Homo sapiens: one gene and its partners. Changing the gene in region 1 together with any one later gene gives a genetic interaction. Each region holds a gene or a part of one and is shown in the gene's direction. Other genes may lie near its edges. The genes, in order: HAPSTR1, ZNF175, TMEM132A, PROKR2, SRFBP1, SERINC2 and ZFC3H1.

The links.
Region 2: changes in HAPSTR1 (region 1) and ZNF175 together harm fitness less than expected from each alone (positive genetic interaction), as found in Homo sapiens cells (one large-scale study listed by BioGRID).
Region 3: changes in HAPSTR1 (region 1) and TMEM132A together harm fitness more than expected from each alone (negative genetic interaction), as found in Homo sapiens cells (one large-scale study listed by BioGRID).
Region 4: changes in HAPSTR1 (region 1) and PROKR2 together harm fitness less than expected from each alone (positive genetic interaction), as found in Homo sapiens cells (one large-scale study listed by BioGRID).
Region 5: changes in HAPSTR1 (region 1) and SRFBP1 together harm fitness more than expected from each alone (negative genetic interaction), as found in Homo sapiens cells (one large-scale study listed by BioGRID).
Region 6: changes in HAPSTR1 (region 1) and SERINC2 together harm fitness less than expected from each alone (positive genetic interaction), as found in Homo sapiens cells (one large-scale study listed by BioGRID).
Region 7: changes in HAPSTR1 (region 1) and ZFC3H1 together harm fitness less than expected from each alone (positive genetic interaction), as found in Homo sapiens cells (one large-scale study listed by BioGRID).

The regions. Positions count from the first base shown.
Region 1 is NC_000016.10:9,105,144-9,108,643, forward strand, and holds part of HAPSTR1 (HUWE1-associated protein modifying stress responses 1), read left to right. Parts: exon of another isoform or gene 1-1,621; intron 1,622-3,227; coding exon of another isoform or gene 3,228-3,361; exon of another isoform or gene 3,362-3,500. UniProt on the Homo sapiens protein: Acts as a central player within a network of stress response pathways promoting cellular adaptability. The E3 ligase HUWE1 assists HAPSTR1 in controlling stress signaling and in turn, HUWE1 feeds back to promote the degradation of HAPSTR1.
Region 2 is NC_000019.10:51,569,973-51,574,082, forward strand, and holds the start of ZNF175 (zinc finger protein 175), read left to right. Parts: upstream 1-1,310; 5' UTR 1,311-1,503; intron 1,504-3,177; 5' UTR 3,178-3,357; coding exon 3,358-3,429; exon of another isoform or gene 3,430-4,110.
Region 3 is NC_000011.10:60,927,460-60,930,959, forward strand, and holds part of TMEM132A (transmembrane protein 132A isoform b precursor), read left to right. Parts: intron 1-181; coding exon 182-400; intron 401-1,169; coding exon 1,170-1,501; intron 1,502-3,050; coding exon 3,051-3,200; intron 3,201-3,500. UniProt on the Homo sapiens protein: May play a role in embryonic and postnatal development of the brain. Increased resistance to cell death induced by serum starvation in cultured cells. Regulates cAMP-induced GFAP gene expression via STAT3 phosphorylation.
Region 4 is NC_000020.11:5,314,155-5,318,291, reverse strand, and holds the start of PROKR2 (prokineticin receptor 2), read left to right. Parts: upstream 1-1,337; 5' UTR 1,338-1,798; intron 1,799-3,914; 5' UTR 3,915-3,922; coding exon 3,923-4,137. UniProt on the Homo sapiens protein: Receptor for prokineticin 2. Exclusively coupled to the G(q) subclass of heteromeric G proteins. Activation leads to mobilization of calcium, stimulation of phosphoinositide turnover and activation of p44/p42 mitogen-activated protein kinase.
Region 5 is NC_000005.10:121,968,475-121,971,974, forward strand, and holds part of SRFBP1 (serum response factor-binding protein 1), read left to right. Parts: intron 1-3,500. UniProt on the Homo sapiens protein: May be involved in regulating transcriptional activation of cardiac genes during the aging process. May play a role in biosynthesis and/or processing of SLC2A4 in adipose cells.
Region 6 is NC_000001.11:31,416,213-31,419,712, forward strand, and holds part of SERINC2 (serine incorporator 2), read left to right. Parts: intron 1-3,500. UniProt on the Homo sapiens protein: Non-ATP-dependent, non-specific lipid transporter for phosphatidylserine, phosphatidylcholine, and phosphatidylethanolamine. Functions as a scramblase that flips lipids in both directions across the membrane.
Region 7 is NC_000012.12:71,636,349-71,639,848, reverse strand, and holds part of ZFC3H1 (zinc finger C3H1 domain-containing protein), read left to right. Parts: intron 1-365; exon of another isoform or gene 366-494; intron 495-1,333; coding exon 1,334-1,431; intron 1,432-2,789; coding exon 2,790-2,999; intron 3,000-3,194; coding exon 3,195-3,359; intron 3,360-3,500. UniProt on the Homo sapiens protein: Subunit of the trimeric poly(A) tail exosome targeting (PAXT) complex, a complex that directs a subset of long and polyadenylated poly(A) RNAs for exosomal degradation. The RNA exosome is fundamental for the degradation of RNA in eukaryotic nuclei.

The DNA.
Region 1 (3,500 bases):
TTATTGTTTTCCTGAACTTTGGGAGTTTTAAGCAATGATACAGTTGAAGGGACTGTTTATAATTTTCACATGTTTAAGTTGTGAGGCTTTAAAACTTAAATATAAGGCTTTGTCTAGGAAGAAAATGATCTTTACCTTCAATAAATTTATAATGTAGCACTAATCCAGTATAGATTGGAGACTGAATGCATTCTTACTCTTAGGGTTCATACCTCTAATTCATGTGGTTAAGACAGTGTTGTGGTGAAGTAATAGGGCCCCTTGAAAGAATCTACAGAAACATAAATTATACTGAGTTGTGCTGTACTGGTTTGTGAGAACATCAGTGTATTAAGGAGAATGGTAGTTTAATTTGAATATTTAAAGAAAGTAATTTGAATGGTTCTAGTACTAGGGCCATTATTAACTAGTAACATAGATTAGTGACTTCAACTGGGTGTCCTTATTATCTGATTTGTCTGAAGTGAAAACTGTTAAGGTGCTCTTTTAAAATGTATTTGGAAACACCATAGTTAGGGTAAATACAATGTCACAATTCACTCTTGCATATTATTTGCTTAGCCAAATTTATGAATTCTAAGTTAGGCCAAATTGAAGGTTTTGGAGTTTTACATTGTGGGTGAGTCTAAATTCATGCGTTTGGCAAGCACAAGGACATGGGAAAAGAATCTGGTATTTTGAGGCAGGCTTGAGTTTATAATGAAAGCAAACTCAGTTCCTCTTCATGTCCTATGTATTTAAGAGAGGACAGTTTTCCCTCAGTTTTTTTCCCCTTCCTTACCCCTACCCCCATCAAATACAGCCCAACCAAATAACTGTGTTCTTAATTTAAAGGAAAATGGCAGACTTGACACCTGCTGAATATTTCGTGTAGACAGAGTATGACAATGAATGAGATCCCCAGTCATTGCCCTTGTAAGCCTGGGAACCCAGTTTAGTGGGAGAGACTAATGTAAACAGCTTTAATCAAAAGTATATCAATTGGCCGGGTGCTGTGGCTCACACCTATAATGCCGGCACTTTGGGAGGCCAAGGTGGGTGGATCACTTGAGGTCAGGAGTTTGAGACCACCCTGGCCAACATGGTGAAACCCTCTCCCTATTTAAAGAAAAAAAAGTAAGGCATATCAATTTATGGTTATCAAATAGGTTTTTTTTTTTTTTTTTGAGACTGAGTGTCGCTCTATAGCCCAGGCTGGAGTGTAGTGCTCACTGCGACTTCCGCCTCCTGGGTTCAAATGATTCTCGTGCCTCAGTCTCCCGAGTAGCTGGGATTGTAGGCGCCTGCCACCACGCCCAGCTAATTTTTGTATTTGTAGTAGAGATGGGGTTTCATCATGTTGGCGAAGCTGGTCTTGAACACCTGACCTCAAGTGATCTGCCTTAGCCTCACTGCTTGCCCCTAAGTGGTGGGATTGCAGGTGTGAGCCACTGTGCTGGCCTCAAATAGTTTTTATCAAAGCTACTTCAATTAGTGGTTAGCAAGGCTTAAAGACTAATTCAGTGCTTTATTTTGACACTTGTTCGCAACATGTTGCTTTTTTTCCTGTGTCCTATGGGACCTAGTCATCTGTATGTTAGATTCACAGAGGAATTAAAGAGATAAACATGCATGTGCTAAATTGATTTCTGTCTTGCTTTGTTATCCTATAATAATGTTATAAAATAACATTATTATAAATTTCCCAAGAGTTGAATTAATACCAACAACTGGTAACTCGTTTTTATGTAAACAGCATACTTGAGACCAGAAATCTTCTGGATCACTTTGTGGATCTCTGCCTGCCATTCTCATTGGTCCTCTGTTCATCCCTTTTCTAGAGCTTCTCCTTACCTTGGCTTCTCTTCTGCCACATTGGCCTGCCTGACCTGTCCTCAGGCCCTGTCACTGCCCTAGATTACGTTTCCCATGTCTTCACTTCCAAATCTGGACCTCTCGTTTAGACCTTCTCTCCTGACTGCCAGATGGCATGTCCCACTGTCCTCCGGTGTACATCTCCAAATTGTCCCACAGGCATTTATCTCAGATGAAGTTTCAGGTTGGACTCATTCTTCTGCCCCAACAGCAGAATGACTCATTGAGCCATTGAGCCATTCAGCACATTCTCTATATGGCAGATTCGGTGCTGTCTCTGGAAATACATAAACATAGAGCGATTCCTTTTTCTGTTGAGGCAAAATATGGATTTGGTTAATTTCTATTCACGTCATGAATGTGGTATGTGGAAGGTCTTCTGAGAGCAGAAAGGGATGTTTCACAGCACAGCCCGGCTGTGTGGTGCTCAGGGCAGGCCCTCTGGAGGAGGTGAGCCTGGGCTCTTGGCCTAATGTTTCAGCTCTCACTTTCCAGTCCTGAGCTGTTGTTGCCAGTCCATCTTTCATGAGACCATTGGAGTGATCTTTCTGGTCTTGTCACTTCATGGTTTAAAGTTTCCCTGGGCCTACACAGTGAAGTCCAAATTCAGCATGGTATTACAAGACCCTTATGATCCAGTCTTAACCATTGGTTAGGTATCCTACCCATACTGTTTATCTCTTGAATACCTCTATGCTCTTTGACAAGTCCAGCCCCTACGTGTTCATACCTCACTTCTGTGACACAGCCTTGCTTCAGGGCTCCCAATCTCTGTAGCCTCCCTGAACTGTGCATTTGCTCTGCTGCTTGATTTGTTTCTGTGACTGTTCCATTCTCCTCGGGACACATAGCAGGGACCTTGTCTTGGTCCTTTTTTTTTTGGCTTTAACAGAACATAGCAAAGAACCTGACATAGGTGTAGTCTGAGTTTACCACTGGGGTTATCACAGAGGTCTGCTAAGTGAATACAACACAGTGGGGACCCAGAACCTCTAGAAAGGGTTGAGGATTACAATCCCCAGATAGCTACAATCAGGGAATAATGTAACCTGTTTGCCTAGGGTGCTACATGGTAATCTTGAATTAGAACAACTGAGACTTCCATGGGACCTTAGGGTGATAACCATTAAACCTACTCTTTCAGTGTTTACTTTGTAAAAGCATCACACTAAGGAGGTTGTCATTTAATCCTCACACCTACCCTGGGTTATTAACACTGTTGATGAAGAAAGCCTTACTTGGCTAAGATATGGAGCAGGTTAGTAAGTGGTAGAATAGATACTCCAGTCCTGTCTCCAAAATGCAAATTTTTTTTTAATTAAAAAAATTTCTAATTTTCAATATATTTATTTTTGATTTTTTATTTTCTGTAGAGTTGGAGTTTCGCCATGTTGTCCAGGCTGGTCTCGAACTCATGGGTGCAAGCCATACCCCAACCTCGACCTTCCGAAGTGTTGGGAATACTGGCATGAGCCATGATGCCTGGCCTCAAAATGCATACCCTTAACCACTATGCTCTCACATTTTTAGATGTGGGATTTCTGTCTACGACGTCGCCCCCACTAAGACCTAGGGCTTAGGTGTCGAGGTGGGAAAGATCTTGAGGCTTTTCTTCTCAAAATTAATCAGAAACGATGTGAATTTTA
Region 2 (4,110 bases), on another chromosome or scaffold:
GCCGTAGGGTAAATCCTATGACACAGTAAAGAATAGTCTCAGATTTATAAGTGGAGAAAATTCAAAAGTTCTAAGTCCGGGGAATTTCTTAGTAACTCAAACAAAATGTCACACTTTCTCACATAATAAAGATAAGTGTTTTTATTGATTTTACACTATTTGCTTACAGTAAATATATAATTGATGTTTTAAAATAAAAGCAGGTTTCATGCTTCATGTAACAAAGTTAGGTTCAGATACTAATGTGAAAACTCAACTATTCCTGGGAAACCATGTTCAAAAAAATGCTTCATTGGCTAAGCAGTCTTATTTTATTATTCAAATGGACTAAAAATGAGGTATGAAGTAATTAAAAGTAATATGGTGGCTTTAAGTGCAGAGATGGGGTGGCAGAAGCTGTGAACACAGAATGTAAAATCGGTAACTACAAAATGGCACAAACTACGAAAGCAATATATTTAAATTACTATTTTTTAAAAAAGAAGGATCATTTCAGATCTTCACCTTCAGATCCTCACTCAGCCCTGCCTCCTATTTCCCATAATCAGCCATTTTTTTAATTTTATGATTGCTATTACTCACCTTCTAGAATATATTTTTGTTTATTTGATTGAACAACCTCTTCCTGAAAATTCTGCCCAGTTGGGCTGGCTGACATTGATCTCAGTAATTGTGTTTTTTTCCTTTAACTTGATTATATTTTTTTCATTCGCCTCTCTTTAAATGAAGTGTCCCAAGAGCCCTAAATTCTCTCTTCAGGTGGTCGCTTGGTAGGTTACTTCATCAATAGGTTCATCCAGGTATAGAGAGCAATGGTGTAAGGATAACAAAGATACAATTTCTCAGAAAGATAACATTTTCAAAAGTGCTATTAAAGACAGTGAGTTGTTCAGCAATTCAGGAAAAAAAAGTCTTTAAATCAGAGGGAAAAATATAGAGAAAAAGTATTTTTCAGAATACATGTCAGTTTCTCCTAGAAATATATATACACAAGTATTGAATAGGTCCCCTGCCAATGTAGGACCCAAGACTTTTACTCTGTGACATTCCATTTGTCCTTGGCTGTACGGAATAAAAGCCCTTTGACGATGGCGGCCTCCAATATCATAATCCGTATGGGTGCGGCCATGCCGTCCTCCCTACCAAGTTTCTGAAGTTGAATGAACCGCGGAATAAAGGTACGCCGTTATACGCCATGATAACTGTTGGCGGAGCGTAGCTTCAAAAGTGTTAGTGGGCATGCGCGCGGTTCAACAGCGCCTACGGAAATCCTAACGGGAATGTAACCCAAACCGGAAGTGGCCTAGAGCGACCATTTAGCTTCTGTTGTTAAGTGGATCTAAGCCTATGTCGCTTACTGGACGCTGAAGTGATTGGGAATATTAGCAGTGGGGGTTCTGTAGGGTCAGGAAGGGGCGGCTGGCTTTGGGGGAGTGATGAGGGGCTTGTTGGGGGTGGGGGTGCGTGATAAAGGGATTTCTCGGCTGAAGACGAGGCTGTGAGGTGAGTGACGGGCTTGTTTTGGCTGAGCGATGAGGGGTTTCTGGGGTGGGTGATGGGTGCTGTGGGGTAAGTGGCGTTTGCTAATTTTAGTTGGATAATTAGCCTGTTAATTTTCCCTCTTTTCTTGCTTATTTTCTGCTTGTAGTATTTTTGTGACTTAAATTCCAAGTGTACTTTAATATCGGATTTTATATTGGTCCACGAAACTTGCTAACTTGAGGACAGTGAACGTGCATCTTAAGAGCGCCTTTGCGGATGGTGCTGGAGGACGTTCAGGGAAGGGATTCACTGTCCGTGGGACTAGGGGAGTCAGTGATTGATTGGCAGCCAAGAGCTTCAGAGGTTGGAGGACTTTGAGGATCACACTGTAACACTCTCAGGGGACCAGTGATGGGCAACCTATAGGAATCAGTAGAGTGGGGTTGCCAGGGGTAGCCTATGGCAGCCAGTTGACTGGAGGCGTAGGGGGTCAATGATGGGGATTTGTGAGGGTGAATGCATTGCTTTCTAGGCAGTGAGTGTTGGGGTCCTTCAGGGATTGGTGGGTGGGTCAGTGTTGGCCTCTTCTTGGGTCCCTTGGACATGGTAAGGATCAGTAATTGACAGTTGAGCACATCGATGATGGTTTCCTATTGGGGCATTTCATTTGGACCCCTATGTTGGGGATTATTTGTCGTTTTATGGAAACCAGAAAATTGTGCTCGCTGGGAAACATTTCTTGGCTATCAGGGCAGTAAAGATTTCAGAAGCCTGTGCCATGTCAGTGACTGGGAGGCATTTTGGAACTTTCTGGCAGCCCTGTAGTACACTCATTGGGGATTTCTGAAAGTCAGTCCTGTCAGTGATTGCATTCAGGTGCGGTGGGGGCAACTTATTGTGGACAGGCAAGAAATGGTAACTGGAGGCCCTGATGCATGTCTGCAAATTTTCTGTGTCAAGATGGGGATTGGGACAGTGATTTTAAGTTTTAGCTCTAGTCAGAAGAGGCTGGTCTGTGTGTGGTGTATTATGGACGGGGACTGAAAAGTCCAGAAGCTCAGAATAGGTACACCAGACAGAGCCACCTCCCGGCCTGAGTTCTATGAAGGCAACAGAAAGAGGAAATGGTGTTTCTGGAAGCTGGCCACGTATGGGTACATGAGATAGTGGAGACAGTGTACAGTTTAGAACAAGGCAGATGTGGGGCTGATTCCCTGTTTTTCCATTTACAGACTGAGTAACCTTCAGGCAAATTATGTAACAGCACACAGCCTCATTATCCTCATCCTCAAAATGGGTATGATAATGCCCATGATATTTAGCTGACAATTAAATTGACAACTTTCTTTTTTTAATTCATATTTATCACGTGCCAGGCAGGCACTGAGGACTTGACAAGCTTCATCTTGGTTAAGTTTCCCAACATCTGTGATAAATACCTGCATTTTCATTTTGGAAACTACAACTAAAGTAATATTTTCATATTCTCACAGTGAAAATGTGGCAAAGCTGCAATGAATTCACCATTTAGTCCAGACTCAGTCTTTATTTTTAACCCTGACTAATAACTAGAGTTGGGCTTTCTGAACTTTGTCTACTCCAATGTCTGACACAGTGACTTCACCTCAGTGCCCTCAGGAAATATTTGTGGAGTGAATGTTGAATGAGTGACCATGTACTCATTGCTTTTCCAAGGCTTCTGCAGAACCCCCAGGTCAGGCCACATCATTGAGGCTGCAGGATCTCTCTTCATAGCCCAGTACGACTCTCCGCCGTGTCCCTGGTTGGAAAATCCAAACACCTATCCAGCTTCTGGCTCCTGGGAAAAGTGGAGTTGTCAGCAAGAGAGACCGAGAGTAGAAGCCCAGAGTGGAGATGCCTGCTGATGTGAATTTATCCCAGAAGCCTCAGGTCCTGGGTCCAGAGAAGCAGGATGGATCTTGCGAGGTAAACAGGGGCAGCCCTGGGGATAGTTCTCCAGAACGTGAGGGCAGACACAGGATGCAGCAGGTCTGGGCTCCCTGCTCCTGAGTCAGTCTTGAGCCTCCTGTCAAGCGAGGACCACAGAGGCTGATGTTTCCACATTCATAGGCTATCTGTGTTCTAGAGGAAACCATGAACTGGCTGATAAAAGAGGATAGTAGAGGGTTGGCCTTGGGTCAAGAAAGAAGAAACTGTAGTCCCTGGTCTGATCAGAAGCCCCAGTCATAGGATGGAAAAGCTGACTCTTTCCTGCTAAGCACTGGTTCTGCTCCTTCATCCACCACTGGGTCTTTGAAAAATTTCAAGTGGTCCCCCCCACCAAATTCCTTGCTTGGTCCATGGGGTTTGGCCCGTTTTTCCTCTGTTCTCATAAGGTGCGGCAAAATCTCCTTCCTTTGTAATTTAAATAGTCACAGGGAGGTAGAGTGAGAAGAGGCTTTTAAGGACCATGTGAAGAGGCTTTTAAACACTTTTTCCTGTTTAAAAAGGTGAACAAAAAATGCTGGAAAACAGTGTTTCCAGATTGCCCACAGATAGAAATAGTCAGGATTTGGTAACAAGAAATCAGAATTCTTGGTATAGTCAAGATTTCCTGAAATCCTAAATTATTCTGTGTATCTCTTGATGCTTTATTTACAAGTCTTT
Region 3 (3,500 bases), on another chromosome or scaffold:
AGGGCCTGAGGTCTGCTGGGTACAAATTGGGAGCCTTCCCCAGCCCCGGCTGTGCTCCCCATATTCCAGAGGGGGAAACTGAGGCCCATAAAGGTTCTCTTCTGCCAAGCTGGGATCCCATCTTCCTAGATCTTCCCCTCCCAAGCTCCTCTTTTGTTAAGCCCTCTCATTCTCCCTCCAGGTGGTCCCCCCTCGAGTCACTGAGCCCCACCAACGGCCAGTCCCATGGGACGTGCGGGCCGTTTCAGTGGAAGCGGCTGTGACTCCAGCAGAGCCCTACGCCCGGGTTCTCTTCCACCTCAAAGGGCAGGATTGGCCACCAGGGTCTGGCAGCCTGCCCTGTGCCCGGCTCCATGCCACACACCCTGCCGGCACTGCTCACCAAGCCTGCCGCTTCCAGGTGAGTAGACAGGCCCCACCTAGGCTGGTCCTGCTGCAGCTGCATCAGCCAGGTGGTGGGCCCGCGGCAGAGAGGAAACCCCCACTCCTGGGAAGCGCGGGGGTTGTGGACCACCCGACTCCATTTCTGCCCCCACTAGCTTTCAGTGCTGTGAAAAGGTTATTTAGGGCCCCAGAGGGAGTTCAGTCCTTGGTGTGTGACTTTGAGTAAGTAACTTAATCTCTCTGAGATTCAGTTTCCTCATCTGAAGAATGGGGTGTTAAGAATTCCTACCCCATCTGGAGTTGGAGTAAGGAACAAGTGAGATGAATGTAAGGATAGCTTACGGCAGAGTAATCAATCAGCCAGTGTGTTTGCATTATTAGTAGTGTTACTTTTATAATTGCTATTTCCACTATTTTGGAGTCTAGCACAGGAATCCATGGGAGAGGCGTCTCTTGAGCTTTAGGATTCTGAGAAGAAGACTGGATTCTAGGCAGGATAGTCCTGGGCTTGGTTAGGGTAAGGCCCTGGGATTGGCTTACTTTGTAATGAGACCTATCCCAAGGGCTGAAGAGTGGTCTGCGGACATGCTCTGAAACCTAGACCTGGTTTGAAGCCCCAGCCAGGTTGCTGGTTTGCTGTGTCACTCAGGCTGTGTCTCCGGCCCATGCTGGGCCTCCCTTTCATGAGCCCCTCCAGCTCTGGGTTTCCTGCCATGGGTGCTGAGAATCCTGTTCCTCGCCCTGCACCCACCCCCATGCCAATTACTGCTGTCGTGTCTTCACAGCCATCCCTGGGCGCCTGCGTGGTGGAGCTGGAGCTTCCCTCGCACTGGTTCTCACAGGCCTCCACCACACGGGCCGAGCTGGCCTACACGCTTGAGCCTGCAGCTGAGGGCCCTGGGGGCTGTGGCTCCGGCGAGGAGAACGACCCTGGGGAGCAGGCCCTCCCAGTGGGGGGTGTGGAGCTGCGCCCAGCAGACCCCCCGCAGTACCAGGAGGTACCTCTGGACGAGGCTGTGACTCTGCGGGTGCCTGACATGCCAGTGCGGCCCGGCCAGCTCTTTAGTGCTACCCTCCTGCTTCGGCACAACTTCACAGCCAGCCTCCTGACCCTGCGGTGAGCACCAGGCCACGGGGATGGGTGAGGGTGGGAACCTCTGTGGGAAGACTAGGGACAGGTACCTGCTCCTCCTGGGGTCCTTGCTGGAATCCTTGACCTCTGCAAAACATGTGTCCACCAAACTAAACTCCTTCCAGGTAAAAAGCCATGACTGTGCTGGTAGGAGCCCACCATGGGCACAGCCCTGGAATTAGAGTCAGAAGTAGGAAGCTGCCCCTTCCCCTGGCACCTCCCTGAGATTCCTTTGTCCAATGGGGCTAACGGTCCACCTTCAGGGCAGCTGCAAGTCTCCAGGGAGGGGAACCCGCAAAGGGCTTAGAGACTGCAGTACCTAAGTGTGAGCTCTTGCTCCAGTGCTCCAGAGAGGGATATTTGCCCCAATCACGTTCACCTACATGCTGTCCCTCCTTGCCACCCTCGCCGTAGGAGTCTAGCCTTTGGACAGAGCTTGCTCTTCCCCATAGGAAGGCCCTGATTCTTTGTGTCCTTTTCCGTAATAAGTTCCCCCAAAGCAGCCCCCACCCACCTACCCAGTTCACCCGGCAAGGGCTTGCAGAGTATGACTTGCTTCTGGAGTCCAGCGCAGGAATCCATGGGAGAGGCATCTCTTAGGCTTTAAGATTCTGAGAAGCCTGAGTTCTAGGCAGGATAGTCCTGGGCTTGGTTAGGGTGAGGCACTGGGACTTGCTCACTTTGTAATGATATCTTTCCTGAGGATCGAAGAGCGGTCTGTGGACATGCTTTGAAACCTAGACCTAGTTTCAAGCCCTGCCTGGGTTTGTGCATGTCCCGTCTCTGTGTCTCCCCATCTCCTACGCCCTCCTATGCTCACTCTTATTAAGCAGATCTTTCCTAGACACTTACAGCCTGCCAAGCCCTGTGTCTTCACTCTGCAGATCCAAACACGAGCAAGGGCCAGTCCCTATCTGGCAGAAAGGGGCCCCAGTGGTAGGGAAGGGAGCTGGATGGGCATGAATTGGATTAGAAGGCATGTGGGTGTGTAAGCACTGAGGGAGGTTCAAAGTGCGGTGGGAGCTCAGGTGAGTGGGTGCAGTAAGGGGGAAATTCATCCCACCACTGGAAAAGCTTTCTAAAGGAAATGGTCTGTGAGTTGTTGGAGGCTTAAAGCATCAGCAGGTAAAGTAAGAAAGGGCAGAGCAGGCTGAAGGCACAGACTGGGCAAAGGCTTGGAGTCACGAATGGGTGCCGTGTGTGTGGGAAACTTGTGTGTAGCTGAAGCAGAGAGTGCATGGAGAGATGTCACAACCGAAGTTAAGGCTGGACCAGACCCTGGAGGGCCCCCAAATGCCCGGCTAAGCTTTGACCTTATGGGCAGTGGGGAGGCGTAAGTGGTCTTTGGGTGGGGGAGAGCTGTAAGGTGTGAGCTGCACTGAGGCGGGGTCCTTCTGGGTTGGAGGATGGTGAAGAGGAGATTCAGACTGGAGCCAGGGAGGTCAGATGGCTTTGGCTCCTTGTCTTTCCCCTTCAATCCAGCCCACAGTTCAGCATGCACCTTGCCAAACTGAGCCTATACTCTCTTCCCCAGGATCAAGGTGAAGAAGGGGCTGCATGTGACAGCCGCCCGCCCAGCCCAGCCCACACTCTGGACTGCCAAGCTGGACCGCTTCAAGGGCTCCAGGCACCACACCACCCTCATCACCTGCCACCGTGCTGGGCTCACAGAGCCAGATTCCAGGTGGGCAGTTTCCCTCCACCCAGGGGGCAAAGGAGGGAGGGCTGGTTATAGAGTGCAGTTGAGCAGATTTGGAGGCTGCCATGCTGCCTCTAGATCCCCAGGTGAGCAGACCCAAGGACAGATTTTTTCAAGGAAGCAGCACAAAGCAGGCATAATCCATTCCTTCATTCATTCATTCGGCCACTATCTTCCCAGCCCCAGCCATGTGCCAGGCATAGCAAGTGTCTGTGAGTCTTATTCTAAGAGATGCCAACCAATCCTGTGCCCCAGGTAGAGCCCTCATAGCCACTACTCCATCCC
Region 4 (4,137 bases), on another chromosome or scaffold:
AAGACAACTCCCCGTAGCACTCTGTTGCACTGTTTTCTAAGCACCCACTGTCTCCCTGGGGACCACATGTCCATCCCCAGAAAAAGCTCCTACTCTGCTGAGGGTGGTCAGGACTTGGAGTTACTACAGCGACATCTGTGGGTCGCCAGATCTGTGTGGAAGCAACCATGCCTTAACTCATCTCAGAGGATTCCATGAAAGCACCAGCGGGCAGATGGTCCCAGGGGTCTGTTTGCCCCCATTGAATAGGGCAGGCATGGTCCATGAGCGAAGAAGCCTCTAGCTGAAGTTGGTAAGTATGCACTATTGCAAAGAATGTGTCCAGGGCGTACAACTGGCCACCCCATCATCTCCCCCACTCAAGCAACAGAGCTTTTTTGCCTCCATATCTGGAAGTTGCCCTGAGCATGTAGAACACCTGCCCAATCGCAGCCCCTCCCCAGGAGGAAAGCAAACAGCTGGCTCTCTTGCCTTTGATCATGCGGGAGAGATGCTAAGAGGTAGGGAGAGTGGGGTCAGGTTCCAGGTAAGGTGGGAAAAGCAGAATCACAGAATGTCACAACCTGAAGGAGTTTGAAGTTCATTTATCCAAAAATTTTTAATTGGCAGCCTTGTGGACTGTGTTCAGTCTGAGACAGGTTCTCTTTGACCAAAACAAGATTTTTGCTTTAACGAACCCAAAGACTATTTTTAAAGTTCTCGAATTCCAGATTCTCTTGAAAACAATGGGAAGCTCTGACAAAGTGGAGTCCATGTTCCCACCTGCCAATAATCCGCTGGCTGGGGTTTAACGATGGGGAACACCTTTTTAGACCTTCAGGGTCCTGCCACAGGTTCAATCCTGTATGCCCAGAGCTTCCTGGGCACCAGTCATTTGAATGGGCAGTTCCTGTGTTTAACCAGGAAGGTCGTGGGAGGATTTCGAACCTGTCAGAAGCAAAGTGAAGGGCTCCAGACTCTCCGGACAGATGGGCTGAGGCACTCCTGGGATTGTCTTTATACGGCCATGGAATCTGATAGTGGTGGTCATCGCAAAGTTTGGGTGAGGACTTCAGGGGCTTTGAGCAGAGCAAACTGTCCCCATCCCCAGCTTCCTCCTGGGGGCCTCCTCCTTCACCGCCATCTCCAAAGGCCCACACCGCACTCGTCGGAGCCGGGCTTTCCTTGAAAGGGTCACCTTCTAGTGGGCGCGGACGCTGGCACTGGGCACCTCCGGAAGACAGGACTCTCCCCTCCTGCGCGCGCGACCCGGGTGCGGTGCCACGACTGGCGGCAGAGGGCGGTGCTCACTGTTCCCAAGCGCACGGTAGAAACCCGGCTACTGTGTGGTCCGATTCAGACGGGATGCGAAGGCGCTGAAATCCGTGCGAGAGGCTGCCCCCGCTGCCGGGGACTCGCGTCAGCGCGGCCGGAGCTACGGTGCCCGCGCCCTGGACGCACCAGCCCGAGAGCACGCGGTGGGGTGGGGGAGCTGGGCATCCACCCTTGGCCTGGACTAGGAGGCAGGCGGGGACCCCGGGGCGGAGTCCAGCGCGGGGCGGGGCGCACAGGTCCGAGACGCTGGAAAGAGCTGTGGGGCCGGAGCGCCAACTCCAGCTGGAACCCAGAGACCCTGACACGCCGGAGGAGCCCGCCGGGGCGAGGAAAAAAGAGGGACATCCCCCACGCAGCGGCTCTGCAAGTGCAAGTCCGGGTCCTCGAGGTGAAAACCGAGCGGCCCGCCTGCGCCCAACCACACTGTGACTCTCGATCCGGCTTCCGGAGCAGCAGAGCGCACAGAAAGGAGGCGCCGAGACAGGTAAGGGCTTAGATCCCTGCAGTCCCGGGACTCAGTCGGTGCGGTGGGGGAGTCGCTAGGACAAGGGCCTCTGACGCCCACTTTTTTCTCGGGCATTCCGGCTGCTTTGCCTCCCGCCACTCTCGAGATATGCGTCGGGGCTGGCTCCAAGCAGGCGAGTTGGTTTCAGGAGATCCCCTCTGGGCCCTCTAGGACCGGGTAGGGTACGGTAAGCGGAGTCTGTGGTGTGCGGGCGCGGGCAGAGGGAGCCAGCGGGTAGCTGAGCTCGCGGACGAGCTCCAAATTGCAGGGGAGGGTGCAGGTAGAGGGGCACCTTCCTGAAAGGTGAGCAGGAAACAGCAAGCGTCCGTGGGGAAATTCCCGCGCACCGCATCCTCCACCCACCCGCCGTTTTCTTCCAGCCAGGAGGCACCGCAGCCTTTGCTTCTAGAGCCTGAATTTCTGACTTGATTCCTGTCTTTGCCAGGATGTCGCCTCTAGACGCCGACAGTGCGGCCGCGTTGATGGGGCGGGAAGGGGGCTGCTGGAACGGGTCGCTCCCGGGCGGGGAGTGCAATCTACGAAAATGCGGCTGGGACCTGTCCCAGCCCGGGCGCGCGCCCTCTTGTCTTGGGTTAGGGGGCTGGAAAGCCGAGGAGGGGTAGGACTCCCCATTCTTGGTCCCACGCTGAGCAGAGGCTGCGGGGATTGGGGTGTCGCATGAGACGGAGGGGCGACCTGGAGAGAAGACACCTCCGGGTGTGGACGCCACTGGGATTTGCATCTCGCCTCTTGGAGGTTTTCACCTTGGGAAAGCAGCTGGCGGGCGCACCCCAGGTTAGGGTGTCTTTTGCTGGCGCGCAGTTCCTGTCCCTCGGCGTTCTCCTCCCCTCGCAGGAGTGGACCAAATGCATTGTTCAGCTGGGTCATCTCCTTGCTACCCAGCATCCCGCGGCGCCCACATGTGGAGTCGTTTCCAGGTGTGCTGAGAGGCGAGGGGAAGGCCACTCACAGCTGGACAGCCAGGGCCCCTTTCTATAGGTGTTGGGATCTGGGCTCTTTTTCCAGCCCCTCGGTGAAGCCTTGTACCCTGGGGTGCCCTATCTCCTGCGGGCTGAGGGCTTCAGAGACTATTTTCCCTATTTTGAGACCTTGGTGACAGGACATGGTGCCTTTCAGGCAGGGTTGACTCTGGGTGGAGAACTAGGGCCAAGTGAAGGAGGTCAGAGAGCAGATCCAAAGTTGGAGTAGGGTGGGAAGGGCGGCAGAGGATTTCTTTCTGGAGCTGGTTCCCACAGAACGGGGAGCAGCAGGGGAATTCCCCTCCCCCACCCCACCACCACCTCCTCCACCTACAGCGCCCTGGTCATGCACTCAACAGATGTCTGTCTAGCCCCCACTATGCACCAGGCACTGGACTGGGCAGCAGGAATTTGGTTTACAGGAAGATTAGGACTCAGAGAGCATAAATCACTGGCCCAGGGTGACTCAGTCTGTCCATGTGAAAGTGAACTTGGTGATTTCCAAGTCTATGGCTTGGTCAGTACAGAAGGAGTGGTGTCCTGCTTTGGAGAGAAGACCCCGCAGCATCCTGGCCCTCCTGCTTCATTGTCCCTGGCCAACAGGTGCCACAACGTTGTGACAGCTGTAGGAGCCTGGCCAGCTCATGGGAGCATCCTTGGAAATGTTCCAGAAGCCCCTGTGGGAGCTGATGTGTTGGGGGCTGGAGGATGTGACTGGGCAGACAAAGAGGCCCTGGCCCCTGGGCAAAGGGCAAAGGTGCACATTCTTCTTGAGAGTTCTGGACAGTCTGATCCATCCTATGCTGTCCTTCCTGACAGCTGGGCAGCCACGGAGGGTTTCCCAACTTACAGATCTCAGGTCTCCTCTCCCCGCATCCCGGGTAGTTCCATCTGGTTAGGCAGTGGGTCTGGTTGGCCTATACTTGGGGAACTCAGGGAATGTGACCAGATGTTCTCCTGCATGTTGCCCACTGGTTGTGCCTCCTTCCAGGATCCAGGACGGTGAGTCAACTCTCCCCAAGGATGTGGGCAGGGTGCTAGGCTCACTGACCCTGAAAGAGCAGAAGGTCTGGACCCTCACCCCTCGCACCTCCCTCACACCACTTTTCTTGCAGACATCACCATGGCAGCCCAGAATGGAAACACCAGTTTCACACCCAACTTTAATCCACCCCAAGACCATGCCTCCTCCCTCTCCTTTAACTTCAGTTATGGTGATTATGACCTCCCTATGGATGAGGATGAGGACATGACCAAGACCCGGACCTTCTTCGCAGCCAAGATCGTCATTGGCATTGCACTGGCAGGCATCATGCTGGTCTGCGGCATCGGTAACTT
Region 5 (3,500 bases), on another chromosome or scaffold:
TATTTTATTCACCAAATGTTACTTTTCAGGTTTTATCCATGTAATACCTACAGATCTTTTGCATTGATTTAAAATACTACATTGCTATATGCTTTATTTATATACGTTATTTTCTCTCTCATGCTACATTTTGTTAAAATGATGCAATGAATAATCTTGTGTGTAGCCTTTTCCTATTGTTGAGAATGTGTCTTCTGAATAGATTCCTAGAAGTAGGACTTTTGTTAAAGTACAGCATGGTTTCCCCCAAAGGAGTAAATCAGTTTGCATTTCTACCAGCAGTGTATTTGTCTGTTTCCTCCAACTTCATACAAAGAATTTGTTGTCGTAGTTTTTTTGTATTTACTAATCTGATAGGTAATTAATGAATAAGCAGAAGTATTAGTATTCTTAGAAACACTTTCTTAACACTGCAAGTTCCCCTGGAACAATACTAGCTCCTAGAATAACTATTTTCTAATAACTATAGATTTTTGTTACAGGCTAACTCAAAAACATGGTAAAGTTGGTGAATTTTCAGAGGCTAACTGGTTGGCCAACTATCACATAGCCAGCCAAAAGTCAATTCAAGTAGCATTTAATTTTGTCTTTGGACCAAAGTCTCCTGTCTGCTTTGCATATCAGAAACTTGCCGTCATTGTCACCCCAGAAATAGAGCTCATTCTCTAAAAAGCAAATTCATGTTAAACCTAAATGTATAAGAGATTGTGTGAATGAGAAAGCTAGTTTATTAAAAAACGTGTCTAATATGCGTAATAAATGCTCACATTGTAAAACACATTCTTTTCCTGTATACTGACCATCAGCTGCTTGGTATGTAGAAATACAGAAAGGGGTTTTAGTTGCATGATTCATGTTGAGCTGTGATGCATCTGTTCCCATAATTGAGTTATTCCAGAACAGATTAGATTTCTCAAGTCTCTGAGCTGGGGAACCCTTTCTTTGGAATTTCCTTGAGCTGGACACTGCCAACTTTTGCCTCTCTGTGGTTTCCTTTCCTGTGTTTATGTTGACTCTTCTGAGTCATCTCACATGGTCTTTTCTCAAATAGCTATATTAGACTTCCACTTTATTTATAGTATTTTTATACTGTCTATGCAAGAGATGCCCTATGTTTAGATTTTGCCAGGTTAACTTTAAAGGCTTCTGTATGTCTAATTTCTAGGCGATACTTCACTGTCAGTACATATATATTCGCTGGGTATGTAAGTCTTAATTCTTTTTCTTCAGACCTTATAGATTGTCTTAAATGCATTCTCTTGCTGTTTGGAAGACCCTTGGCTTGGCTTAATCAGTCTTGTTGGTGATGGCCTCAGATTTTCCCTTCAATTTCTGTCTTCAGACCCCTTCCTTCTACTTGTCTTTCATTTTCTTTCTTCTGTGTCAGCATATTTTATTTACATTTCTATGCCTCTGTTTTCTCTGTGCTCACACTATTCCTCTGTTCTTTCCGTCCCAAACAATAATCATACTGTTTTTACAATTCTAACAATGATAGTTCTTGCTTTTGGTTAGAGTTTTGCCAAAATGTACTGCCATTAAGCAGTGCACTTGGACTTCTGGCAGTATTGGTGTGTTAGGCCTGTTCATTGACTTCTGGGTTGTCAGCCAACTTTACAATTCCTGGGTGACAAATAAATTGGCAGCCTTTTAAATCCTAACTTAAAGGCTATATTTGTCATCAGTTTTGCAAAAATCTAAGTGCTTGGGGAAACCTAAGTCTTAAGTATATGAGGTATTCCTTTTGCTTTTAGAATTCCCTTATCCATTCATGGCAAACATAGTATTTCTTAAATTGGAATTTTAAAATTGGAGACGAGCTTTGTTATGATTGGAATGTAACCAAGGACCAACTCTACCCACTGCAGTTTATTAGTTTAGTTAACAGTGGTTAGCAAATGGTATATTATCATCTCATGCACCTGCAAAGTTCAGCAATTAGAAACATTTGTTAATATATTTTAATGTGCAGTTCATCGCTTGCTATTAGTTTATTTTATGAATAACTTAACTTTAAAAAATGTATCATGACACTGTATAATTCTGTTTATGCAACGTGGCCGTTCTTTTTTTTTTTCCTTAAGCCTTGTCTGTGTGCCTTTTCATTTATGCAAAGTATGATTTTTTTTTCTAAATGGGTCTTTGAAACAAATTCCTAAGAGGTTAACTTATCTAGCAGGAAAGAAACCTGATTACTGTGCATTTTTAAAATATATTATGCATTTGAAACAGTGAATAGACAGTGTGTATTGCTACATTTCTGGTCATTTATTTAACCAATATTTATTGGACACATACTGTGTGCCATGCACTATGTTAGGTGTTAAGATGCAGTGTTGAATAAAACCAGATACTTGATCAACTTCACAGAATTTATAACCTACTGGGGAAAGACACATTAAAAATAATCAGATTAAAAGTAAAGTATTAAGTTACCAATTAAAGGTACTTGTGACCCTCTCAGGGAAGCCAGAAAAGACTTCACAGAAATGACAATTGGTCCAAAATCAGGATGAATAGATGTTAACAAGTTGACATGGGAAAAAAGAACATTCTGACCAGTGGAAATGGTAGGTGTAAAGGCTTTGTAGTAGACGTGAGCATGGTGAGGACAGGGGACTGAAAGGCCAATGTGATTCTTCTGAGAGCAATTGGACACCGTTAAAGAGAGTTACTTAAAGGTACGACATTGGATATATACTTTAAAAAATTTTATTGCGATGGCATTGTGGATAACTGATTGGAGAGAGGCAAGAAGAACAGGTGTGGAGAAACCGGTTAACAGTAACTCAGCCAAGATTGCAAAAAGGTCAAGATAGGGAAAAAAGTGGTACAATTTGAAAGATAATTAGGATTTAAGATTAATAGGACTTGGAGATTCATTGTGAAGGATTAAGAGAGCTACCTCTAAAGACCTTTAGGTGTATAACTAAAAGGATTGTTCCATTCTCTGAAATATGAAACCCCCCCTCCCCACAAAAGAAGGGAAGGGTTTTATTGGAGGTGAAGAACATGAATTTAGGTGTGAATTTGAGGTGATTTTGAGCGCACTCAGAAAGAAATGTCAAGCAGGAAGTTGCACATTTGGGCTTGAAGCTAAAAGGAGTGATCTCAGCTGAAGGTAAAATGTTTGACTCCTCTTTGTTTAGGTGGCAAATTAAATATGCACACATAAGATCTCTTAAGGCTAAACAATGTATTGTGAAAAGAAACACTGGCTTGGGACTGCCCCCTCAACTCTTAACATTTTATGACTGGGTAGAGGTGGATGAATTTTCAAAGAAGATCAAAATAGAGTGAGTAGAAAGGAAAGAAGAAAACTATCTTGGAAAACTAAGGGAAGAATGTTTGAAGAAAGAGAAAGTGGTCAAAAATGTCAAATTTCCATTGGATTTCAGGGGCTTTTTTGGAATTCATTGGTGTCCTTAGTGACATCTTTTAGTAGACTGATGAGGATGAAAATCAAACTGGATTTGTGTGGCATGCAGAAATAGAGATAC
Region 6 (3,500 bases), on another chromosome or scaffold:
ATTTAGCACCAAGCTGGTGTGCAGTGGCCGGTCCATAAACACCCCACAGTAGTACATGACTCAAGACTACATGCAAGGAAGTGCTGAAGCCAGTGAGACCCAGGGCTGCCTAACTATAGAGCCTGGGCTCGGAGCCCCTGTACTCTCCTACCCCAGGAGATCATTTTACAGATGAGGAAACTGAGTCCCATGGAGGGGAGGAGAGACTTGCCTGAGGTCAGATTACAAGCTGTGGCAGAGCCAGCATTAGGACCTGCATTCTTGGCACTGCATGGGGGAAGTAAGTGCACCTTGGGACATTTCCGGCTGACCTCTTCTCTGCTGTGTTTTGACTAGCCCTGGGGCGGCTCAGCCAGTTACGGAGTTGTTCATGAAGGCGGCAAGGTGCATGCTTGCCTGGGCCAGTTTTGCATTTTTTAAACTGTGACGAAATACATGTTAAAAAATTTACTCTTTTAACCTTTTATTTTAGTCTTCAAGGAGTTTGTATGTTATTTCATTTTATTTTATTTTACTTTATTTTTTTGAGATGAAGTCTTGCTCTGTTGTCCAGACTGGAGTGCAGTGGCACCATTCTGGCTCACTGCAACCTCTGCCTCCAGGTTCAAGTGATTCTCCTGCCTCAGCCTCCCGAGTAGCTGGGATTACAGGCGTGCGCCACCATGCCTGGCTAATTTTTGTGTTTTTAATAGAGACGGGGTTTCACCATGTTGGCCAGGCTGGTCTCGAACTCCTGATCTCAAGTTATCCACTGGCCTCGGCCTCCCAAAGTGCTGGGATTACAGGCATGAGCCACCACACCCAGCCTGTAATTTATTTTAGAAGACATGTATATTAAAATGGAGATCTAATAAATACAACCCTAATAAAAATTAATCCCAAACGAATGGCATTGTCAGAAGGAGTAGTGCCAACTAAGGCACACGGTAACTCCAGAACATCTTCTTACTGTCAGCCCTCATCTGGATTACTGACAACAGCCCCTGACTCTCCTCCCTTCCCCCAAAGATACCACACACTACCCCATGACCTGTCTTTTTGTGATCAAAGTGATATTTCTAAAATGCAAATCTGCTGTCATTCCTCTTCTTTCGCAATCATTCCCCATTGCTTTCAGGGTGAAGTCCAGACTCCCTGGCATGGCATACAGGGACATTGACCACCACTTCCGTGACCTCTGTAGCTTTTCTCACCCTTTCAGCTGCCCTGAAAATACAGTGTCCCTGTAGCTCTGCATGTGTCATTCTCTTTGCTGGGAATACCCTTCTCGCCTCTTCCTGCTCTTCTTTGAAAACTCCCTGCCCCCTCCCTTTTAAAAAAATTGAGGTAAAAGATGCATAACATAAAATGTACCATTTTAACAATTTTTAAGTGTAGCATTAAGTACATTGACACTGTTATGCAACCATCACCACCATCCTTCTCCAGAACTTTTTCATCTTCCCAGACTGAAACTCCCACTAAACAGTAACTCCCCAGCCCCTCGTAACCACCAATTCACTGCTTTTCTCTATGAGTTTGGCTACTCTCTCCATCTAAGTGGAGTCATACAATATTTGTTCTTTGGTGTCTGGCTTATTTCACTTAGCATAATGCCCTGAGGGTTCATCCATGTTATAGCATGTGTCAAAATTTCATTCTTTTTTTTTTTTTTTTTTTTTTGAGACAGAGTCCTGCTCTGTTGCCCAGGCTGGAGTGCAATGGCACAATCTCGGCTCATTGCAACTTCCACCTCCCGGGTTCAAGCAATTCTCTTGCCTCAGCCTCCCGCGTAGCTGGGACTATAGGCACACACCACCATGCCCAGCTAATTTTTTTGTATTTTTAGTAGAGATAGGGTTTCACCATGTTGGCCAGGCTGGTCTCGAACCCCTGACCTCAGGTGATCCGCCCGCCTTGGCCTCCCAAAGTGCAGGGGTTACAGGCATGAGCCTCCGCACCTGGCCTCATTCCTTTTTAAGAACAAATAATATTCTATTGTATGGATATGGATATACCACATTTTGTTTATCCATTCATCTCGTCCACCAATGGACATTTAGCTTGTTTTCACCTTATGACTACTGTGAATAATTCTGCTATGAACATGGGTGTGTAAATATGTGAGTCCCTGCTTCATTTCTTTTGGATATATATCCAGAAGTGGAGGGCCACTTTATTTTATTTTATTTTATTAAATTTTGAGACGAACTCATGCTCTGTCACCCAGGCTGGAGTGTATTGGCGCGATTCAGCTCACTGCAACTTCTGCCTCCCGGGTTCAAGCGAGTCTGCTGCCTCAACCTCCTGAGTAGCTGGAATTACAAATGCCTGCCACCATGCCTGGCTAATTTTTGTATTTTTTGTAGAGACGGGGTTTCACCATGTTGGCAGGATGGTCTCAAACTCCTGATCTCAGGTAATCTGCCTGTGTTGGCTTCTCAAAGTGCTGGGATTACAGGCATGAACCACCACGCCCAGACAGCCAGTTTGTTTTAAATAGAAAAATTCATCCAGCCCTCAGCTGCCTCCCTTACCCACCCAACACCCTATGAGTGGTTCTAAGAACTTCTGTCCCTGGCTCTGAGGACAACCAGGAGACAATGTGAATGACTCAGTGACAGCCTGTTCACATAATGCCAAACGACTCATGGCTCCAGAGCTGTCTGCCTTGCCTTGGGAGGTAGTGAGCTCCTTGTCATTGGCAGTGTGCAAGCAGCAGAGGATGGCCAGATGCTTTCTGGGTGGTTCTTCATTGGAAAGAGAATGGATTGGTTGAATGCCAAGGAACCTTGCAGCTGTAAGGCTCTGAGGCCTGGGGCTTCTTAAATTCTGAGTTCTCCATTCTGAGAACCTGGGCTGGTACTAAGATTCAGCCACTGTAAGTGTTCTGGGGCTTTTCTGTTGCTGCCCTTGAGTGCATCTGCAGGAAGAGGGGAGTGGTTGTAATCGTAGTGTGGGAACAGCTTTCCAGTCTGCCTTCCTTTCACACTGCATCATGAGCATTATTCCATGTGGCTCTGTAGCCAGGGAATTCATCTTTCTGGCTCTGTAGCATTCCATGGAGTGAAAGGGCCACGGCTGTCCCCAGGTGTTAGACATTTAGGTTTTTTGTAGTTTCTTGAGACTCCAATAGGCTCACAAAACCTAAAGCTTATTTAAGTTTTTTCTTTATATAAAAATCTTTATTTTTATATTTGTAAATTTAACTTAATTGAAGTATTATTTGTATACAATGAAATGTACCCAAGTTAAGTGTTACCTACATATTTGCCCCATTCAGCAGAGAAATCCGTTTTATGGAATACCATGATGTATTGATGGGCGTTTTGTTATTTTCAATTTTCCCCTAATGGCCAGGCATGGTGGCTCATGCCTATAATCCCAGCACTTTGGGAGGCCAAGGTGGGAGGATCCCTTGAGCCCAGGAGTTCAAGACCAGCCTGGCCAACATGAGAAAACCCTGTATCTACCAAAAAATACAAAAATTAGCTGGGTGTGGTGGTGCATGCCTGTGGTCC
Region 7 (3,500 bases), on another chromosome or scaffold:
GCCTAGTTCTTTGTCCTCCTGGATGATCCTGACATGGTGGGTAGCATGAACCAGCACATAATGGACTTCATCTTTCCTACCACTAGTTTCTAAAATTCATGAATGAAGGCTACTCTTGCTGAGGGCACCCTCTACCTTCCCACTGTCCTTTCAGACCCCCTAGTGGCTGACCCAACACAAAGGTCAGAAAGTCCTCAGAAGCCTCTCCTGGCACCTGGCAGTGAGTCAGGGCTGGTTAAATCTGGATGAGGATAGTGCAGCCTGGAGGGCTTTCCTCGGAGATCACTGCACTCACTAGGTCCACCCTCTCTCCCAGATACTAGGAAGGGAAAACATGCCAAGTCCATAAAACAATAGCACCATCAAGTGTCTGACTATTAAACATTCAAATGTTCATGGGGCAGAACACTGAGCATAGACATAGCCTCTCTTCTCTCTGCCACCTAATAACACAAATGTGACACAGCAGCCACATCTGCAGCGCTATGTAAAATGTTCCAAAGATTAGTGTATATTCAGATTATCTCATTTGGGACTCAAGTCAACCCCATATAAGGCATGTGGATAATAATGTATTGACTTGTGAGACAACTGGGATAAAGAAGAAATGTTAGATTTTCTCTGATTATATAGTTAGTGGGTAGGGTAGTAAGAGTAGTCTTTGAAACTGCTGTATTTCAGTGAGCCTAACAAGTCATTGAAGATAAAATACACAATTATTTTTATCTGCTACCAAGGAAGAAAAATGCTGAGATGCATCAATTGTAATTATTTCAAAATTAAAATGTGAAAAAATGTGCACCTTATTGACTAAATACACTAAGTAATTCTTCTCATTCCTAGTTTTATTTACTTTCAACACAGCTTATATGGTCCATGTCCTCAACTTTCTTTTGCTCCACAAGAAGGGAATAATGAAGTCACCACATCATTGTTTTCCTTTGGCTAGGGCACTTTGGCAGAATTTAAGGGAATTTTTTGTTTCATTATTTCTTAAAAAATATGCTTGTGTTTTTTTTTGTTTGTTTTTTTAAAGTATGTTTCTGTCTTTTCCTGCTTTATTCCCTGTTCTCATCATTAGGTTAAAAGTGGAACAAAGTGAGAGTTTTGAGGGACTAATTATTAGTTTAAAGTGAATGGCTGACTTTATGATGATATGACAATTTTAAATGGCTGGAGGTGGACTCATGAGGGGTTTAAAGATTTTATCAGAGGTTGATAAAATCTAATTTGCACTCCACCTAGATGTATTTCTTCAAACATAACATAAACTTAATATATTCCTGATGAAGTATTTCTGTTATTAAACTCTTAACAAAAAATTTTTTTACAGCTCCTTCACCAGTGCAACCGCCATTTTTCTCTGAATGTTCATTGGGGTATTTTTCTCCAGCACCATCTCTTTCTTTGCCTCCACCACCTCAGGTTTCTGTAAGTCAGAATTGATTTCTAAGAAAATTATTTTGTCTTGTCTTTTCTAATTTGTTTTTAAAAACGAATGGTTAGGTTTGAAGAGGGCTTAAAAAATCAGAATTGCTTACCAAGAATTAATAGCAATGAAATACGTAGAATAAACAGTTGATTATACCAGCAAGCTATCCATTTGGTAGATTTTTTTCATAGCTAATTTTTAATTTCATGTTGACTTTTCGGTACCTATCATGTTTCCTTCTTCACTTTACTCTCAGATAGTAGCTACTCAGAAAATTTATTCAAAAACAGAAGTTATCTACTGTTTTGGACTGTCTCTTTTTTAGGGAATTGGAATTTACATGCATTAGGATGCTTCTAAAAATTAATACTCTCCTTTCTCCTCTTTTCATAAAAATGGTTATTTTTAACTTGAAAATCCAGCAAAAGAAAAGCATTTTCTATGAAGTTAATTTCTTTTCCCCCCCATCTCCAGTCCTCCCACTAAAAATAAAACAAAAAAATAAAAACAATAAAAGGAAAAGGAAAAAAAGGAAGTAGAGGAATCACACATTAAAAGTTTTGACATTATTTTTAGATTGAGAGGACCTAGAGATCAAATTGAGTATCTCTCAGTAGGTGTAAGAGGGAACTTTTCCGTTTCAGGAAAGACGTCTAGTGTCTTTCTAGAACATATATGGTGAGGGGAATATTAGAGCCGATAGTGAGAGAGAAAACAGCACTTTCTTCGTTGTAATGTTTTCTTTTTGGGAATGAATAAATGAACTAAATGCCAAGGGAAATAGTGGAAGATCTTTGATGCAAATACATATCCAAATTTAGGGATTTGTGTAAAATTAGTTTCCTTTATAGATATTCTTTAAGAAGCCATTTTAAGAGAGTAGTGGTGATTCTTCTTGATACTTAATTAATGATTAAAGTACTCTGGACTATTATTCACAGAATCCCTTGGTTTCTAATTTTTATTTTTTACTGAAATATTATGTCTTGGGTTTCAGTACCTCTACTTGCTTTCAGGTAGTCATCTAGAAGGAAGGACCCTGTATAGTTTGATATCTATATCTTCTAGAATGCTAAATGGATATAAGAATTGGAACAGAGAAGTTTCTATAATTTTCCTTGAAGTTAATAAATGTTTCAAATATTGTTGATTTTTTTTAAAATTGTAAAAATAACACTTTTTCGTGGTTGGCTATTGATTTCTGGTTTGTTTTGAGGTTAACATATACTTAGCTTACTATATTTACAGCTAAAATAATAATGTAAAGTTTATTTTTTTCTAGTTTAATATTGCTGCAGAGAGAAGCATTTGAGTTGATAAAATTTGCGTTGTAATTCTTTCTTTTTTTAAAAAATAGTCTCTGCCACCTTTGAGCCAGCCTTATGTGGAAGGCTTGTGTGTTTCTCTTGAACCTCTACCTCCTCTACCACCATTACCACCTCTCCCACCTGAAGATCCAGAACAGCCTCCAAAACCACCTTTTGCAGATGAGGAAGAGGAGGAAGAAATGCTGCTTCGAGAAGAACTACTTAAATCTCTAGCAAATAAAAGAGCTTTTAAGCCAGAGGTAATTTAGGTACCTAAACCTCTAGGTGGTGCTCTTGAGCTTAGCTTTACGGTAGTCCTACTTTTTTCTGGTTACTTGGGCATCATTGGGCTTTTCAGCAAAGTGGGGATAATTCTAACATGCTCAAGATTTTTAAAGGTGGCAGAAATTTATTTTTATTTAGGAATGTTTAATGTCTTTCTCTTCCTTATGTAGGAAACATCCAGTAATAGTGACCCACCTTCACCTCCAGTTCTGAACAATTCACATCCTGTGCCAAGAAGCAATCTATCAATAGTCAGTATTAACACAGTGTCTCAGCCTAGGATACAGAATCCAAAGTTTCACAGAGGACCCCGTCTTCCACGAACTGTGATCTCGGTAAAAACAAAAATTTAATGCTACTTTTATTCAAACAGTTATGATAAATTTCTATGAAGTTTAGCTGTCCTGTTTTCTACCCCTTGGTTTATTTATATACACACATATATTCACATATAAATACAAATTTTTAAAATTTAT